Linked DNA regions of Homo sapiens: region 1 is linked to region 2. The links come from fine-mapping of genetic effects on gene expression. A gene starts in region 2. The other region holds a variant in brackets. All regions are shown on one strand. Distances are between the middles of the regions. Region 1 overlaps MYCBP2 (MYC binding protein 2). Region 2 holds the start of FBXL3 (F-box and leucine rich repeat protein 3).

Region 1 (11,273 bases), 39 kb before region 2:
CGAAGATTAGATAAGATTTGTGTGTGTGTGTGTGTGTGTGTGTGTGTGTGTGTGTGCGTGTGCACACACGTGCATGCATATATATATATACACACACATATATACATATGTGGCACTTAGAAGAACAGCGTGCACATAATAAGCTCTATAAAATTTTAGCCTTTATATTTTTCCTTATGATACATTTCTTTGATGACTTGGTGTTCCGATAGCTTAATTTAAGACCACTATCATCACAGAGGTTTGTTAGGACACTTTCCTTTTAAACAAATGTTATTTTCCTGGATTGTTCTTCAAACAATTAAATGTGGGATGTGAACTAATAATGTTTACAATTTAGAAATAGATTTAATCAAAGCTACTCAAATTGACTACATTAAAGAAATTTGTGAAAGGAGAATATACTTCTCTGAATTTCCTAAGTTCTGAGATTTTGTTCTTTTTATTTCAAACTTTATCCTTTGTCTTAGTATTATAAGCCTCAATTTAAAATAAATTTACTTTAAAAATATATACACAAAATTATTTCTCAAGTTACTTTGAAATATCACATATACAAATTTTATTTAAAGAGACCACTTCATTCTTTTTTTTTTTTTTCTTTTTCTATGTAAAGGCAACATCAGATGCTGACCTGAAAGAACATATGGTTGGAATCATATTCAGCAGGAGTAAGCTGACTAACTTACAAAAACAGGTTGGTTAACAGCTATTTCATTGTCTTCATTAGTTTTGTGTGTGTGTGTGTGTGTGTTTGTTTGTTTGTCTGTTTGTTTGTTATTAGGGTATAAAGCAGGGATGTCCAATCTTTTGGCTTCCCTGGGCCATATTTGAAGAAAAAGAATTGTCTTAGGCTACACATAAAATACACTAAGGCTAACAATAGCTGATGAACTAAAAAAAAAATTGCAAGAAAAAAAAATCTCCTAATACTTTAAGAAAGTTTATGAATTTGTGTTGGGCCACATTCAAAGCCATCCTGGGCCACAGGCAGTCCCCCGGCTGCAGGTTGGATGAGCTTGGTATAAAGTATTTTGAAAAATTTATGAAGGCTTTTTTATGCTCGCCCTTTTATAGGTCCTGCAGAATGTGCCTGCCATTTTTTAGAGAGGAATGAGTATTTTGGCATACCTTCATCATTTTAAAGATTTTACTTATGAAAACTTGCTTACCTTGCTGCTATTTGTTATGGGTAGATTTTTTATTTGGTGTCAAATACCCAGCTATATCAGATTTGATTTGCATTTCCCATATTTCTTTTCCCCCATTCTTCTGTGTGTTGGCTGAGCAATTAACAGTGTTAACTATACCAGTGTTAATATTTTTAAATATAACCAGGTGAGGAAATAGCGCTATATTGTTCATATAATGGGGTGCTACATAACATAAAAATATCACTTCAAAAGTCAAATAAAATATTGATTTTAAATTAACCTATTATTCTAACTTTTTTTTTTTTCGAGAGGGAGTCTCGCTCTGTTGCCCAGGCTGGAGTGCAGTGGTGCGATCTCGGCCCACTGCAAGCTCCGCCTCCTGGGTTCACACCATTCTCCTGCCTCAGCCTCCTGAGTAGCTGGGACTACAGATGCCTGCCACCACGGCTGGCTAATTTTTTTTTTTTTTTTTTTTTTTTTTAGTACAGACGGGGTTTCACCGTGTTAGCCAGGATGGTCTCGATCTCCTGACCTCGTGATCCACCCGCCTCGGCCTCCCAAAGTGCTGGGATTACAGGCATAATATTTTTGTATTTTTAGTAGAGACGGGGTTTCACCGTGTTAGCCAGAATGGTCTCGATCTCCTGACCTCATGATCCACCTGCCTCGGCCTCCCAAACTGCTGGGATTACAGGTGTAATTTTTTTGTATTTTTAGTAGAGACGGGATTTCACCATATTAGCCAGGATGGTCTCGATCTCCTGATCTCATGATCCGCCCGCCTCGGCCTCCCAAATTGCTGGGATTACAGGCGTGAGCCACGGCACCCAGCCCTATTCTAACTTTCTACACTATTATTCTTTTCAATGAACTACAACATGAATTTATTTTTGCTTTATCTTTCTAGCAGTGTTTCATTGAATCTTAGATGCTTTCAATTGTAAAATGTCATGTATAATTTCAGTATTGTGAATCTTATCAGCTATAAAGCACCTTATGAACATAATGGTAAACCATGAGAAAAAGTGCCTTCAGTGATAAAATATGGTGATTGGTTTTTGACGTGCTAAACTGTAAGCATAGGCATTAATAACTTGCATATAATCAGTTTGCACATAGTAGTTGATTTAAATATTTCCATTTTTATTGTGGCTCCCTTAGCTTTACTTGTTTCTTAGATGAGTTAAGAGAATGACATATGATGGAGAATTAACTGGGAGAATAGTATTAAATTGAGTATCAATTTACATTCTTGTCTTATTCTTTTGTTTGCTTGTTTTGCTAGGAGTAGTAAATCAAACTAACCCTATATTTTTACATGTTCTGTGTTAACTTTAAATAGGTGTGTGCTCATATTGTCCAAGCTATTCGCATGGAAGCTACCAGAGTCCGTGAAGAATGGGAACATGCTATATCAAGCAAAGAAAATGCCAATTCTCAGCCAAATGATGAAGATGCCTCCTCTGATGCCTACTGCTTTGAGCTGCTCTCTATGGTTTTAGCACTGAGTGGCTCTAACGTTGGCCGGCAATATCTGGCTCAACAGCTAACCCTGCTTCAGGATCTCTTCTCGCTGCTTCACACAGCCTCTCCTAGAGTCCAGAGACAGGTGACTGATCACACTACAGCCTTTCCATTGCTTTTGTTACTTGAAACATTGTTAAAAGTTGCAATGCAAAGAGAATTATCTAAGGACCCTAAGTATAGATTTTTATTTCGTATTTTGTTATATTTTGTTTGGGGCCTGTATTTTACTCCCTTTTTTACTGTTTATAGTGAGAGTATAGAATAGTAAAATATGTTCCATTTTATTAATGTGTTGTGATAAGAGAGTATTCTGGCTACTGATTACCATATTACCATGAAATATATAATGTCATTTAGCCCTGACCAGAAAGAAAAGGTATTTTTTTTCGTGCTGCCTTGGGTTAGTAATTACCACTACTATTACCATTTGAATAGTATGTATATCATATTTTCTTCCTTCACAAAATGTAAAATAGTGTTTAAATCATATTTCTTTTCTTAAAGATTTTGAAGTTACAGAATGGTAGTTAGGTACATTAAAAAATGAAGCCTGGGATGGGGTACAGTGACTTATGCCTGTAATCCCAGCACTTTGGGAGGCAAAGCTGGGAGGATCCCTTGAGCCTAGGAGTTCAAGGCTGCAGTGAGCTGTGGTTGCTCCACTGCACTCCAACCTGGGCAACAAAGCAAGACCCTGTCTTTAAAAAAAGAAAAGAGAAATAAAAGAAACCTTAAAACATTAGTCTTTACATGGAATTCTCTCATTTTATTTTTCTTACCAGGTAACCTCTTTACTAAGAAGAGTTTTGCCTGAAGTAACCCCTAGTCGTCTGGCCAGCATCATAGGAGTGAAATCCCTCCCCCCAGCAGATATCAGTGATATCATTCACTCAACAGAGAAAGGAGACTGGAATAAGCTGGGTATCTTGGACATGTTTCTAGGATGCATTGCCAAAGCACTCACTGTACAGCTAAAAGCCAAAGGAACCACCATCACTGGAACAGCTGGTACCACTGTGGGCAAAGGAGTTACAACAGTTACTCTTCCGATGATTTTCAATTCCAGGTTAGTTATTGCCTCTATTTTAGTACCAAAACAGAATAGAGTGAGCTACTGTTCAGAAATTTAAGACATAATTTCAGATTTTACCTTGTTAGGTTACTCACCAAATAAAATCCATAAACAACTGGCTAATATCTAAAAAGGTCATGTATATAATAAAAGTGTCATTTATAATTAGTGGGGAATAGAAAGTAGGCTGAATATGTGATGTCAGAATATTTGGATATCCATGTTAAAAAAAATTCTAGATACCTACCTCTCACCATATACAAAATTAAACTTCAGTTTTAGGTAATATGTTTTTTTGCCACAATAAAAAGAAATAAATATGGGGGAATAAAGTAAAGTTCAGGTCAACTAAAGCTTTATGTACATTTCTTTTTAAAACTGTACTGGGACAAATTATAGAAGAATATTTTTGTAATCTTCAATTTGATAAGACCTTCTTAAACAAAACACAGAACCCAAAATCATATAGGAAGATATTTATAGATTTGACTATATAAAAATGAAAATTACTTGATAGGTGATAATATTTAAATGTTTTAAAATATAGGGAAATAACTTAGAAAAATACTTAAACCTATATAATAGACAATGACTTGTTAGCATAATATAGAAGTATGACTACAAATCAATTTTAAAAAGGCAAACAACTGATAAGAATAATAAATGACAAGAACAGTCAGTTCACAGAAAAAAACTTATAAATGCCAGTAGTCAGTTCACAGAAAAAAACTTATAAATGCCAGTAAACAAATGAAAACACCTCACTACTAATCAGAGAAATGTAGATTAAAATAATTGCAAAATATCTTTGATGCTTTGGCAACATTATGAGGAAATAGGCATTTTCATCTCATATAAATTGCTGCAGCCTTTTTGGATATCTGTTTATAATATCTAACTATATTTTAAATATGCATATCTTTTGACCTACCAATTCTACTTCTAAAACTTTCATGCATTTGCACCAAGGTATATATGCAAGGATGTTCTGTAATTGTGTGTAACAGTAGAGAATTAGAGACATCTGAACAGTGCTACTTGTAGAGCCAATCCATGACAATATGCAGATAACATCAGAATGTTAATCATTGTATCACTTCTTTCCTGTAGTCTTGCTAGGAAAAAAGTCAGCTGAACTAAATAGTAGTGTGCTTAGTGATACAGTGAATTTATATTCCGGTTAAGCTCC[A/G]CATTATCCGCATGTGCCCTAGAAATAAGTCGTGTGTGGTCCCTGGACTGTACTTCTAAAAGATGCACACAGAAATAATGTGCAAACAGAGAAATACTTGAAAGGGAACTCAAATAACCTTAACTGCTGTCTTGGGATTTGGGGTAATGGTTTGATGAATTTTCTTTTTAAATGTTTTAATTGATTCAGTCACTTAAAAATCTAAAATGCTGCATTCTGAAATAACATTTTCATCTTTTTCATTTGTTACTACTACTGATAATTTATTGGCTTTTTAAGTGCTAATTTTTCTTGTAGTTATCTCCGACGAGGTGAAAGTCATTGGTGGATGAAGGGCTCAACCCCTACCCAGATCTCAGAGATCATCATTAAACTTATCAAGGATATGGCAGCAGTAAGTTCCCATTCTTCTGTTTTGGCAGTGAAGTGCGGCAGGAAGCTGACACAAAACAGCTTACTCTGCTGAATTGATAGGAGATGTAGATTAGTGTAACTTTACTTAAAGACTATTTGTAGTATGTTAACTATCATGCTGTTTGTCTTTTCAGTGAGTGATAATTTGTCATTTATGTAAACCATGTTCATTTCAAATTTTCCAGTTAATTTGTGTGGGAATTGTTACGTGACTTTAAAATCTAATAAAATAAAATATGCTCTTTCAGACCCTAAGAAAGAACTTGATTCAAAAAACCTAAAGGAAAAAAAGAGGAAGAGAGCTCTCGAAAGTGGAAGTTTCTCATTCTCCTCAGTCCTCATGGTTTTTAAACCCTTTATTCTTCTTTATTAATGTCATATACCCTCTGTCTTAAGATGGTGGCTTCCAAAGGAGATCTGGGAGTGTGGAGGACAGGGAGTTACTTTACAGAATGCCTGGCTCTGATTAGTTGCTCCTTGTCATTTTCCACACATTGTATTATTTCTAGGAGGGCAGCCTGAGAAGGACAAGATAGTATGGAATGTAGAGTCAGAAGGAATAGAAGGCAGCTTGGAGAAGGAGGAGGAATTGAACTGCCCCTTAAATCATGTGGATATGAGAAGTGGGAGGATTTTCTGGGGGAAAGATGAAGTTCTATCACTTTTCCCAACAGCGTGGATATTTTCTCAACCTCTGTGGCAAACAGACTTTCTCAGGGTGTTCATTGAATTAAAATATTTAGGAGTAATATTTAGGAACACCTAAATTATATGATAGTTAAATGTTTGTTCATTACAAATCAAGGTAGCAAATAAAGGTAGTTGCAGTTTGAACCTGTTTATATTTTAGGTTCCTGTAATACTCATCTAAAGCAGTTAGCTTCACTGTGTAAATTTTATGCTAAGTGACAAACTTCTCAAACATAGATAACCTTAGTATTTCTGTTATGTTTTTATCAGATGTGAGAGTAATTGCCCTTGATTTCCAGGAAAAGAGTATTGAGAACTTAATTTTTTATTTATTTATTTTTAAATATCAAAATGATGATTAGAAGTTGAATTTTCCATAGGATCACGAAGAAATTTTAGTTCAAAAGTTTGTGCCCATAATCTAAAATTCCATGGTCTCACTAAAAACAAATATTTCCTTTGATAGGAGATGTTATTTAAGAAAAAAGAGTTTACTATGGTAATACATTTCTGGTCACTTATTAAAATACTCTGTTCTGCTCAATAGGGTCATCTGTCAGAAGCTTGGTCCCGAGTGACAAAAAATGCTATTGCAGAAACCATCATTGCCTTGACCAAGATGGAAGAAGAATTTAGGTCTCCAGTGAGATGTATTGCAACAACTAGAGTAGGTTTTGCTTTGTTTTGTTTTGTTTTAAATTTGGTGTGTATCATTGCGTGTTCTTTTTTAGTAATAGATTTAAACAAATTTTAATCACTAAGTCAACATAATTATTTTTTAACCAAATACCGTATTTATTGAAAAAGTATAAAGGGCTTTTATATTATGAACTAGTCGTTACTTCTCACTGTTATGTGTTCTGTGTCACTTGTTTTTGTTATTGTTTAGGAAGCCAAGGGTACACTGGTTAGAAAAGGCTAATTACATTGTACATTGTTTGCGTGTTGTCTTTCTAATGATCTGTTTGCTGTAGTTTACCACAGTAAGTTTAGTGCCAGCATTATGCTGTGATAGACCGAAGGTCCTTTGGAGACAAGACCCCTGCCTATGCCTGGTTGTTCCTAATGTAGAGCCCTGTAACTTACTTACAGGATTTATAGGTCTTACTTCTAAAAAGCAAGAAGTGCTTGTCCAGGGCAGGGTCAGGGTGGAAATCTTTGAGGAAATGAGATTGCATTCTTCAGATGACACATTTATAGTAAGTTTTAACCTGCTAGATTTCATGTCCCATATACTTCCAGAAGAGATTTGAGATTTCCTTGAAGGAGGGCAGTCTGACAACGTTAGGAAGAAGTGAATGCTGGTAAAAATTGCTTAGGTTAATCCTCAGAAATCTGAAGAAGATAAACTATATATCCCTAGGGCGGAAAAAGTCAATTTATGCTATCTTGCTATTATTGACTGTGACACCTGAAATAGGTATTTTTGACAGTAATCCTTTCCTACCACTCATGTGTTGCTTTCTTTCAGTCTGCATTCCCCTTCCTCCTTGCATGCATTATTTCTTTTTCTATTTTTCTGTCCCTATTTTAACATCTCTTGCTTTCTGTATCCAATAACACTCACATGCACTTCTTAGAGTTGAGCTAGTTAAGTCATTTTCTATTCTTCATTAATGAGGGGATATATCATTCTATATAAAACTGAAGCTTACCCTTTAAGCCTCAGAAATTTTTAACTATTTCTGAAAACAGTTGTCTTTTTTTTTTTTTTTTTTTTTTTGAGACAGAGTTTCACTCTTGATGCCCAGGCTGGAGTGCAATGGTACGATCTTGGCTCACTGCAGCCTCCGCCTGCAGGTACAAGCGATTCTCCTGTCTCAGCCTCCCAAGTAGCTCGGATTACAGGCATATACCACCACACCTGGCTAATTTTTTTTGTATTTAGTAAAGACTGGGTTTCACCATGTTAGTCAGGCTGGTCATAACCCCCTGACCTCAGGTGATCCACCCACCTTGGCCTCCCAAAGTGCTGGGATTACAGGCATGTGCCACTGTGCCCGGCCCTATTTTGGAGAACAGTTTTCTAAAGCTTTTAGACATGTATGTATTTCTGACAAAGTGCACCAAGTATAGTATTAGGCTTTCTGGGGCAACAAGGGGCAACAAAGACTTCTGAGGAACTTTTATTATCTAGAAGGATTTAATGTGTACCTGACTACTCATGGGACTGTACACAATTTAGCAGTTGCTGTACCACCTTCTTTGGCATTTAATGATACTAAATGGAAAAATATTCAGAAGACATTAGTAGTAAATATTAAATATGCCAATTCATTTATTCATATGTTGTTTACATAGTAGACCAATAAAGGATAATTTTATTTGTCAGATAGAAGACAGGGTGGTTCATCAGAGAAACAGTCACTTGTTCAGTAGATATCTGAGTGCCTCCTGTGTGCATGGCACATAGGACAGTGATCGTGTATGCCTGCTACCACATCAGGAAGACTTGAGTGCCACTGAGTATCTATGTATTTTCAAAATCAGCCAGCATTTATTGAGCTGTTGTGATGTGTCACAGTCAGCATTTCATAAGTCTTTCCTAAAAATTCAGTGGTGTAACAGCCTTCCCTTTCAACAGCTCTGGCTTGCTCTCGCATCCCTATGTGTTCTTGATCAGGACCACGTAGATCGTCTCTCCTCGGGGAGATGGATGGGAAAGGATGGACAACAAAAACAAATGGTAAGATCAGAATTTTGTAAGAATTTATCTTGCTTTCCTTTACAGTAAGCTTTAGCTTAGCTTAAAAACAAACAAACAAACAAAAAACACATCAACATAAACAGTTAGTGGATCTCTTGAAAGATTGTGTCCCTTCGGCCAAGTTCATCTCACAAGTCTATTTCAGAGAGTCCCTACTTCATAGTATATGGAAACTTTAGGGGCTTTTATTTAAGTATATTAAAGAGCTTTCTTCTTCTCTGAGTCATGTTTGCATCATATCAAAATTTATTTTTAGCCAGAGTCTGATTTAGTGACTAGATATTTTACTAAAATGTAATCAGTCTTATGGTAGGAAGGAAATAAAGCAATAACACAGGCAACATGACACACCACCTGTTCACATATATACTTAAGTAGGTTTGATGGGTATCTTTAAGTTCACTAGAAAGGAAAACTTTATATAGGCCCTTTCACCATTTTCTTATTAATGTTCAAGTTTCAAAAATAAACAGTTTCTTCCTTTGGCATACAGAATGTTTAGATATATAATGGGGCAGACATTTCTTAAGTCTCTAAGTAACAAAGTATACCTGTTCATTGTATTAATCATTGAACCTGCAAAGCACATTAATGATTGGATTTGGAGTTTTGAGAGATTTTTATAGTTAAGTACATTTGCAATAATTCTGTTTAATATTCAGATTCTAAATTCTTAATAGACTTCCGAATAACGGTTTATTTTTGTAAATAAATTATATTCAATTTGTATGAGAGTCTGAGACTTGCTTGTTAATCTAAGTAACGTGGAAATGTCTTATTTTAGCCTATGTGTGATAACCATGATGATGGTGAAACTGCAGCAATCATTTTATGCAATGTCTGTGGAAATTTATGTACAGACTGTGACAGATTCCTTCACCTTCATCGAAGAACCAAAACTCATCAAAGACAGGTGAAGATTTTTGTCTCTGGAGCATAAAATATGTTCAGTGAATTTTGAAATAAATGTGTGAAAGAGGCTTTGTGTAGTAGGGGGAAAAAGTGGACTTTGGAATCAAAGACCTTGGTTGAGTTCACAGCTGTCTCGCTTACCATCTATAAATAGCAAGTTGTTTTATCCTTAGAAACACTTAATTTCTCCATTTATAAAAAAGGGACTGCTGTGAAGATTAAAGAGAAGATTGGAAATATTCAAAACTTCTTAGAGTGCTTAAATGAAAGCCATTATTATTATTGAATAATTAAATTTTATACTCTCCCTTTCAGAGTGATAAATAAGCATATTTTTCCCTGTTCTTTAATGAAATAATAGGTCTTCAAAGAAGAAGAAGAAGCTATAAAGGTTGACCTTCATGAAGGTTGTGGTAGAACCAAATTGTTCTGGTTGATGGCACTGGCAGATTCTAAAACAATGAAGGCAATGGTGGAATTCCGAGAACACACAGGTAAAAGGTTTAAAGATTGAGCCATGCCTTTAAAACCCACAAAAAAAGATTAAACCGTGCCAACTGATTAAACTGTGAATAATTTTGAGTGATATTCTGATGTTTAATTATGACATCATTGATCTATATATTTACTAAATATATAGAGTGTTCTATGGTGAAGAGAGCATTAGACCAAAAGTCAAGAAACCTGATTTGCCACTAACTAGCTGTGTGGTGTCGAGCAAGTCACTTAACCTCTGGAACTCATTGACTTCATTTATAAAGTGAGAGGATCACAACTAATGGGGCTCCATAGATAAAATACATTTCTATTGATAATTCCCTTCTAGTTCTGCTAGTTGTTGCCCCACAATAAAAATTGCTGCACTAGATGATCACTAAGATCTCTATTTATTATAAGGTTGTATGATTTTATGATATTTAGAGGTTTTTGTAGACCTAATGCTTCTGAAGGTGTTGTGAATGGTACTGTTTCCATTGATAGCAATAAAATAATTAACAAAAATGAATAGACATAAAACAAAAGGTAACCTATGTATGTTAAATGTATTTTTATCTCTAAAACATAGTTTTCATTTTGCTGCTTTTCTAAAGTAAATCTTGTATATTCCTAGTTCAAAGTTATGTTGAATCTTACAAATTCTCAGTTTTCAGCACATCTGCAGTCTGCCATTTGACTGACACGAACTTCCAGTGTTGGAGTTAGGTGTAAATCCGAATCAATTTAATTCTAGGGTGACTTTGCATGCTGCAAGAGCATGACCTTCTTTTCTCATAGTTGATTTCTTCCTCCTATAATCTGTCAGTGCTGTATACTGCATTAATAAATGTTCTAATGTCAAACCATCCTTGTAAACCATCCTTTTTAAATAGATTTTTCTGTAAATATTGCTGAATTCAATATATTGATATTAATTATAGTTAGATTTTTATATCTGTGTTTAAAAATCAGCTTGGTCTGTAATTTTCAAATCTTCACGTTCTTTTTCTTATTGCTCTGTTCTTGTTTTATTGATTCTGTTTCTTCTTTAAGTATTTCAAACATATTTAAATTCCTTTTCAAATTGCAGAGTTCCTGAGGTAGGAATTCTGTTTTTCAAGTTTCATACTC
Region 2 (8,000 bases):
GTCTCAGCTCATTGCAGCCTCCATCCCCAAGTTCAAGCAATCCTCCTAACTCAGCCTCCTGAGTAGCTGGGACTACAGGTGCATGCCACCACGCCCAGCTATTTGTTTGTATTTTTAATAGAGACAAGGTTTCGCCATGTTGCCTGGGCTGGTCTTGAACTCCTGAGCTCAAGCAATCCGCCTACTTTGGCCTCCCAAAGTGCTGGGATTAGAGGCGTGAACCACTGCAGCCAGCCTGCTTGGAAATTTCTTTAGCCAAGTCCAACAATTAAATAAATGCATTTCTCTACTTTCCATGTTGCCATAGACAAATGTTTCCCTGGGCTTGCCATTATTATATGAAAGATATCTAAAGATATCCTGATTTCTCTGGACTCCATTAACAATTCCTTATTGTCTTTCCAGCACTCACTAACAATCTCCTCCCCTTCCAGCTTCTGCCTGTTGCACAAAATTCCTGCAGCTAAAGTTGTACGGAAGATGAACTCACAATCCAAAATTATAAAATACATGAGGAACAACCCACCATGAACAAACATTGACACATATCATGATTAGACCCCCAATTATTTCATAGGATTAAAACAATTTAAGAAAAAAAGAAATTACAAAGTGAAAAGAGTATCAAGAAAGATCAGGTAGATATGAAAAAGAACCAAATAAAACTTTTAGAAACGAAAAACGCAGGCAAAGGTAGTCTTAGCAAAGACTAAATAGACTAAATTAGTGACTTGAAGACAGATCTACAGAAATTACAGACAGAAAAGTAAACATATACAATTAAGAGATATGTAGATACACCTCCCAAGACAGAAAAGTTTTAATAATTTAAATAGACATTCCCCTCTCAAGGAAATGTTGCAGTTCAGGTAAATCCACATTCTTCAGTGTTGGCTGCACATAGTGACTTTCTTCCAGTACAAAAAGAGAGGGAAAAGGGTAACTTTAAGTAGAATAACTTGATCTCAACCTCTGATTAATGTTGACATCAACAAGGATAAGTCGTATTAATAGATGTACCCTTGATATGATGTGATGAGAATGGTACTTTATACCTCTGTAGTTTTCCTTCTAAAACATCCATAGTCCCCATGTAATTATAAGAAAAAAACCTAAGACAAACCCCAATTGAGGGACGTTCTACAAAAATACTAAAGCAGTACTCCTAAAAACTGTAAAGGTCATCAAAAACGAGGAATTACAAGATGGTATTTAAGGAACTACTGCAACATAATCTAATCTATCCTGATCATTGGTGTACCAAGGCTGGGGTGGTGTGGGAATAGTCTACACCATTCTACGTGGTGGAGGGGGTACATTGTCTGTGGATAATTTAAAACAATAATAAAGAGACTAATTGTTCATCTGCTTTTTATTACCACATGCATTGGCAATTCCAAACAGGGTCAGTAATAAATTATTTTTCCCAGTTGGATCAATGTGCTCCACACTCATCCTTTCTCCCACCTACCATGCCACTGATCTTGATGATACAATTGATAAATGTAAATAAGTACTGACTGATTAAAAAATAAACGTTTTTTTTCAAAAAAAATGAGGTGAAATAAAATATTTGCCAATAACAGGGAAGAAAAGGGGTATTCAATAGGTCAAGTGTGCCAAGGTCCTTGTCTTGTTTAGGAGGAGAATAGATCATAATGGCGAAAAAAGAAAAAAAAGAACTATGATTGGAATGTGATATAACCGTAATGTGATACAATATTAACGTAATGCAACCTATGCTCATCATGTTTACTGAATTGGTTTAATGTATTTTGCTGATCATTTATACTGTTCACCCAACTTTAAATAAATGGGCCTGTATTTGACTTATTTGTTTTTCCTTAATAATTATCATTGTCCTTCTTAGAACTTCCTATTGTTCCTCATCATCCAGTCACTGAGGGACCTAAACAAATGTTGCAGCTCAGGCAAATCCACACTCTTATGCTACTAGAGGCTTTGTACAGTTTGATTCAGTGATCTGACAGCTGACAGGCCCTTAAAAAACACCGAACAAACAACACTGGCATTTCCCCACATTGAATTCATTTTATTATAGAAACAGTCTCACTCTCTCACCCAGACTGAAGTGCAGTGGTGACATCATAGGTCACTGTAACCTCCTACTCCTGGGCTCCAGCCATCCTCTCGATTCAGCCTCCTGAGTAGTAGCCGGGATTACACCAAGCTCGTCTGATTTTTTAAAATTATTACTCTTCTATTTTTTTGTAGAGACAAGAGTCTGGACATATTGCGCAGGCTGGTCTCCAATTCTTGACCACAAGCAACCCTTCTGCCTTGGCTTCCCAAAATGTTGGGATTACAGACATAAGCCTGTACCACTCCTGGCCTCACACTGAACTTCGACGTAACTTTATACATGGCTTCCTAGCTCAATTTCTTGAGAAAACGGGAAGAACGGAGAGCTCCCTGGGCACCACTGCTTTTCAGTGTCTTATACATGGGTCTGAGTGTTCTAAGACATCTTTGAATGGAAAACTACTTTCTCTCTTTTTTTTTGGAGGTGTAGAGAGGAATGGCGCATGATTCAACTTAATGATATTGCACCTAAGAATGTTTCTAACTGTAAGAAAACGCAGTATCAAAAAATCCAAACTTTAAAACAAGTCAACTAGGTAGCAGTTACAAAGATGCCTTGATTTACAAAAGGATTCACCAGAGGTTTTCTTTTCAGCAGCTTTGTAATCCTTTACTTTCCCCATTGCGTTTCAAAAGCTATTTACAAATTTCAGGACTCTATTTCATAAAGCAAATGTCGTTTTTAAAATGTAATAACTCTAATGATAAAAGCCACTTTAGAAATATTGGGAAATACAAATATTTGAAAAACAAAAACCATGTGCAATCCCAGCGTTAATACTCTCACTATTCTGGTACATTTCCTTGGCATCTTTTAAGCACCACTTATGCACATCGATGCGCGGGTCTTCGGAGACTGTATTTAACTCCTCGGTTTCAGGCATCCGGGGCGGCCACCCGCGGGCCGCGGTCCCCAGCAGGCTCCGGCGAGACTCCTTCCTTTCTTTTTTCTGCTCCACCTCCCTAAACCTTCCAGTTTCAGCCACAGATAGTCTCTTCCACATATAGCTAGCTTCAGCCCTCCCACATTCCATCTCAAAACAACAAAAAAAATCCCCTTCAAGCGGGAGTCACATCTCTGGCAGGAAGGCAGAGGCTCGTCCCACAGCAAGGAGACTGGGGCGGCCGCAGCGCGCGCTCCCGCTTGGGCGCGGCCCTACTCCCGCCGGGCTCCGCCCCCCCCCCGCCCCCTTCCCGCCCCCTTGGGCGGGGACGCGCCAGGGAAGCGCGCGGCCGCGAGCCCTGGGCGCCATTTTAGACTCGCTGTTTGTGGCCCAGGTGCAGGAAGCTTACGCGGTGGCAGCCGCTCGCTGAGGTAGTCTCTCGCGGCGCCGGGGATCCCTGAACACAGACAGCGCGGGACTGAGAAGGAAAGCTTCTTTCTGGGCAGCCAGAGCCGCAAAGGTGGAGCCGCGTTGGCGCCCTCCGCGGGACCAGCGCCTCGGATGCGGGCGGAGCGCGGGGGGCCGCGGCTGCGGGAGCGCGAAGCGGGGGGCCAGGGGCGCCTCATGTGAGAGCCGCGGGACCTGCAGCCGCCGCCGTCCCCGGAGCACGGGGTGGTGTGTGGGGGAAGCCGCCCCCGGCAGCAGGTAACGGCGGAGGGGCAGGGCCGAGCCCCGCTGCGACGGCGGAGCCGGGGAGGGACCGCGGACCGTCTGTGGGCGGGCCGGGGTGGGGTGGGGTGGGGGGGGGCGCGGGGGCCGGGGCGCGCGCGGGCCGCTCCTCAGGAGTGCCGGGCGGGGCGCGGGGCGCGGCACCCAGACCTTGGAGCTTGCTTGGGGGCGTTTCCCCGCCGTGCCTGCTTCCAAACATGTCAACAAGGCGTGGTGCGTGTGCGGCGGCCGCCTGCAGCCTGCCCGCGACGCCGCCGCTCCCGGGTTCGCCGCGGCTCCTGCCAGGCTTTATGACCCTTGGCGGGGGCTGGTGACAGGCACCATGGAGCTCGCACTCTGTGGGCTCTCCCGGCGTCGGCTACGCCCGTGCTGGTAGCTTGAGCAATGAGGCACTGAAATGTCAAAGCAAACTGCCCAGGGTGGGGCGCATGAGAAATGTCAGGGGAAGCCAGTCGGTGGGGAGGTGGCGCAGGGAGGAGGGGACGCCCCTGCCGCTTAGCCAGGCGAAAAACTTGGTCAACTTGTGTTGAGCGGATTCGCGTCTGCCTTTGGCGTGGGCAGTCCTTTAGGTGGGGTTGCAGACAGGGGTCAGGAAGCAGCCCAGTAAATGGTCTGTATCTCCAAGCTGAGAGGTGAGAGAGATCATTTTTATTTTGTCGTTGCTAATGATATCCAGTTGAGTGACCCAGATTTTTTAATTAGAATCCTCCTTTTCTAACTTGAAAAAAAAGTAACTTAGTTTCTGTTATCTCTGAAATATTTATAAAAATACCATCAACTATCAGTTATCTATCTATCTATATGACCTGTAGACAGATTTTCGCCACTGTGCGCTCTCTAAGCATTTAGTTGTGAGTTAACCTCTTTATAGTGTTTTATTCTTGTAGTTCAGCCAAAGAATGCATATTAGTTTGATATTAGTAAAAGCAGAACAGAAAGGAACTGTGATGCCAAAATAGGCTTTTTAGAGTTAACTACAAATGAGCATTTAAAATTATTGCATGCCCAGTGTAAAAGTGCCTAATACAACGATGCACACGGCTAGCTGTTCACTTCCGGTCTTCACCTAATGAAGTTGCTTCTTTCAAAGTTTTTTTTTTTTTTTTTTTTTTTTTGAGACAAGGACTCACTTTGTCACCCAGGCTGGAGTGCAGTGGCGCGATCTCGGCTCTAGCGATCCTCCCACCCCAGGCTCCCTAGTAGCTGAGACTACAGGCATGGGCCACCATGCCCAGCTAATTTTTGTAGAGACAGGTTTCATCGTGTTGCCCAGGCTGGTCTCAAACTACTGAGCTCAAGCGATCCGCCCGCCTTGTCCTCCCAAAGTGCTGGGATTACAGGCGTGGCCCACCGCGCCCACCTGGAAAGTTTATGGAACATAGAGTTAGTTCACTAACTCCTTGTGCTGCTCAGCTAGTCTGTGGTCTTTCCTCAGTAGTTTGCTATTTAGCAGTTTGTAGTCATATCAGTCCCTCACCAAAAGCTGTGGTGGCCTAAGTTGCATTATTTGGGGCCTAGAAGCTTTGCAGGAAATTAAACTGCCAGAGCCCTGAAGAGGCCTAGTTTTGGTGCTCTAGATTTCTAGAGTCTAGAATGTCTCATTGACGTTTTATAGTACAGCTTGGTTCTCCACACTTCTTTTCAAATATAGGAGGTGTTTTCACTTTGACAAAAGTAGGAATTATAGGGTCCATTGATGTAAATTATTTGCAGGCTGGAAGATGCTCTGAGATGTTTAATTTTATGTATAGCAGAGTTTCATGTGTAAATAGATTTAATAAGATACTATTAAAGTAGTGTAAATTTTTTCATACATAAATGAAATCAACTTGGAAAAATTGACATTTAAAATTTTAAGTGTCCACTCACTTCTGTTATTTTCATGCACAAATGAGGATAGTGCAGAGGATATTTTTATTGGAATTTGGCCTTACATTTTTTTCAATTGCTTAATGCACTATAATTGTAACATAGACATATTACGTATGACAATTAACAGACTTAATTCAGCTATTTGTAAACTGGTAAGTTCTTAAAATAGGCTTTGGTGATCATATAGTGTTTTTATATCTAGATCAAGAGATACTGTCCCTTAGTGTTGCATACTGTTAAAAAAAATTTTGTCAACTTCTTTAACCTGAACTTGGAAAGGTATTTAAGTACATTTTATTTAAAACAGTACTATAATAGACAAAAGAAAGTTTCTATTTTTAGGACCAGCAAAGTATTTATTAGCAAAGACTATTATGTGAATAAGGCTACCATTTTATTTTTGTTTATATATCCATATACTCTAAAGTAAAATGAATCATTCCGTCTTTAAGTTGTCTAGTTCTGGTTTTAGAAGATTGTTCTCCAGAAACAGGCAATCAGTATTCTATAATAAGGTGTAGAAATTGCAAAGACTGTCATTCTTTTTTGAATCTCTGTATCTCAAAATTGTGAGTAGTTTTAGGTGGTCAGAAGAGAAATTATAAGCTCTGGATAGCAAACACTTTGTTCTTTGACCCAAATTTTATATACTAAAATTAAAGTAAGCCTTCAGGGTAAGTTAAAGCAGAAAAATGGGTCATAATAACAGTGTTATCTCAGCCTCTAGTGAGGGATTATTATTAGAAGAGACTTAATATTAAAGATTACAGTGTAGACTATACACTTTTCTCTAAACTTATTAAAAAAAAACTAATCTCAAGTCACACATAATTTCCAGTCTTCCATCAGACTACCTTCTTGCTGTCACCTCTGTCATTCTATTTTCTCTCTTGTTCTCTCCCTGATCAGTAGGGTATACGTAATATATTTTATTCACATAGTTGGGAATAGGAGCAGTGAAGAATAGGCAGTTTATTGCACATATGCTAAGACGTCTTTGACTGACTTTCATGGCATTAAGGTCAGAGGCCTCTGCCATTCTCTTTTTACTCTCCAGCCCTCAATCCTCTTTCACAAGTTTTGCGAGGTACTGGGTGGAGAAAGTCTGCAGAAACATTTGTTTTACAGTAATGCATATGCATATCCTTCATCTCACACAGGAATGAGAAATTCTTTTATGCTGATAGGCCAGAGGAGTGTTGGAGCAACAAGCCATCTTTCTGAAAGATTGTGACCCCAAGTTTAGGTCGAAACCACTACCCTGCCAGAACTGTTCTCTAGAAACAAAAGTATTACAGGCTCTGAACTAAGTAACTACCAGTGAGTGGTCTGCAGCCATTTAGTTTAGAGCCTGCTATACTTTTCCAAAAAGTCCGATTACACGGTAATGCATTGATAGTAAAAGAAAATGTGTAAAACATAAAAAGGGAAGAGATGTTTGCAAGAAAAAAAAATTACCTGTAATCTGCCGTCTACTGTTGGTTACTATAATAATTCAGTGAGTCTACTTCCAGGGTGTGTTTTCTCGTACACAAGCTCACTTGCCCTGTCTCTCTGACACACACACACACACACACACACACACTCTCTCTCTCTCCATTTTAAAGCAAAAATAGAGTCGGGTGTGGTGGTGCATGCAGATACTCTGGAGGCTGAGGTGGAAGGATTGCTTGATCTCAGGAGGTCGAGGCTGCAGTGAGCCATGATCGTGCCACTGCACTCCAGCCTGGGTGACAGAGCGAGACCCCATCTTGAATGAATGAGTGAACGGAATGAATGAATGAGTGAACGGAATGAATGAATGAATCATTCTCTGCCTTCTGGGTAGTAACCCTGGTTTTTAGCATGTTGTGTACTTTAATGTCGTTAATGCTGGACTGCTTTCCTACACAACAGTCATATCTCAACAGTTCAACAGTCGTATCTCCCCTTTGAAAAGCCTTAATAGTATTGCATTTCTCACAGAAACCCTGTTTTATTAAACTAATTTTGGAAATTTAAGCACAGGAATATCAAGTAATTTGCTCAAAGCCACATAGCCAGTGAGAGGTAGAGCCAGAATTCAAACCCAAGGAGCTTGGTTCCAGAGCCCATTCTCTTTAGCCATAATACTGTTTTGCCATGAAAAAACTATCTTTCAAAGAAACTAATGGAATGAAAGTGCTAAGAATACATAGAATAAACAAATAGGTATAATTCAGAAACACAACTTGGGGAAAACAGTGCAATATTAAGTGATGTGTTTGAAGAAGCAGCTACATTCCAGACCAAACAATTCATAGTAGGGGTGGTTTTGCTTATTTTAGGCGGAGTTAAGAAATGTCTGGCAGTAACACATAGCATAGCCCAGTGCCTGTCCGTGGCAGGGGGTGATTTCAGGAAGAAACTGTTCCACCTCAGATCATCAGGCAT

Evidence for each region. PIP is the estimated chance that this variant, and not a neighbour inherited with it, causes the effect. A credible set is the group of variants that fine-mapping cannot tell apart.
Region 1: its variant is the best candidate, but not a certain one, in a credible set for the expression of FBXL3 in whole blood (INTERVAL, PIP 0.83).

What each region holds. Positions count from the first base shown.
Region 1 is chr13:77,060,055-77,071,327 of GRCh38, reverse strand. MYCBP2 (MYC binding protein 2) reads left to right here. Exons shown (of 83, transcript NM_015057.5): 69 at 617-697; 70 at 2,497-2,763; 71 at 3,464-3,747; 72 at 5,240-5,336; 73 at 6,594-6,713; 74 at 8,631-8,732; 75 at 9,538-9,666; 76 at 10,027-10,159. Among named protein-coding and RNA genes, the nearest start is that of MYCBP2-AS1, 9.8 kb to the left of the region's middle. The variant A/G (reference allele first, on the strand shown) is at 4,943.
Region 2 is chr13:77,022,519-77,030,518 of GRCh38, reverse strand. It overlaps FBXL3 (F-box and leucine rich repeat protein 3), which reads left to right and starts at 3,360. Exons shown (of 5, transcript NM_012158.4): 1 at 3,360-3,692. RefSeq lists silencers at 3,240-3,289, 3,460-3,739, 3,760-3,819.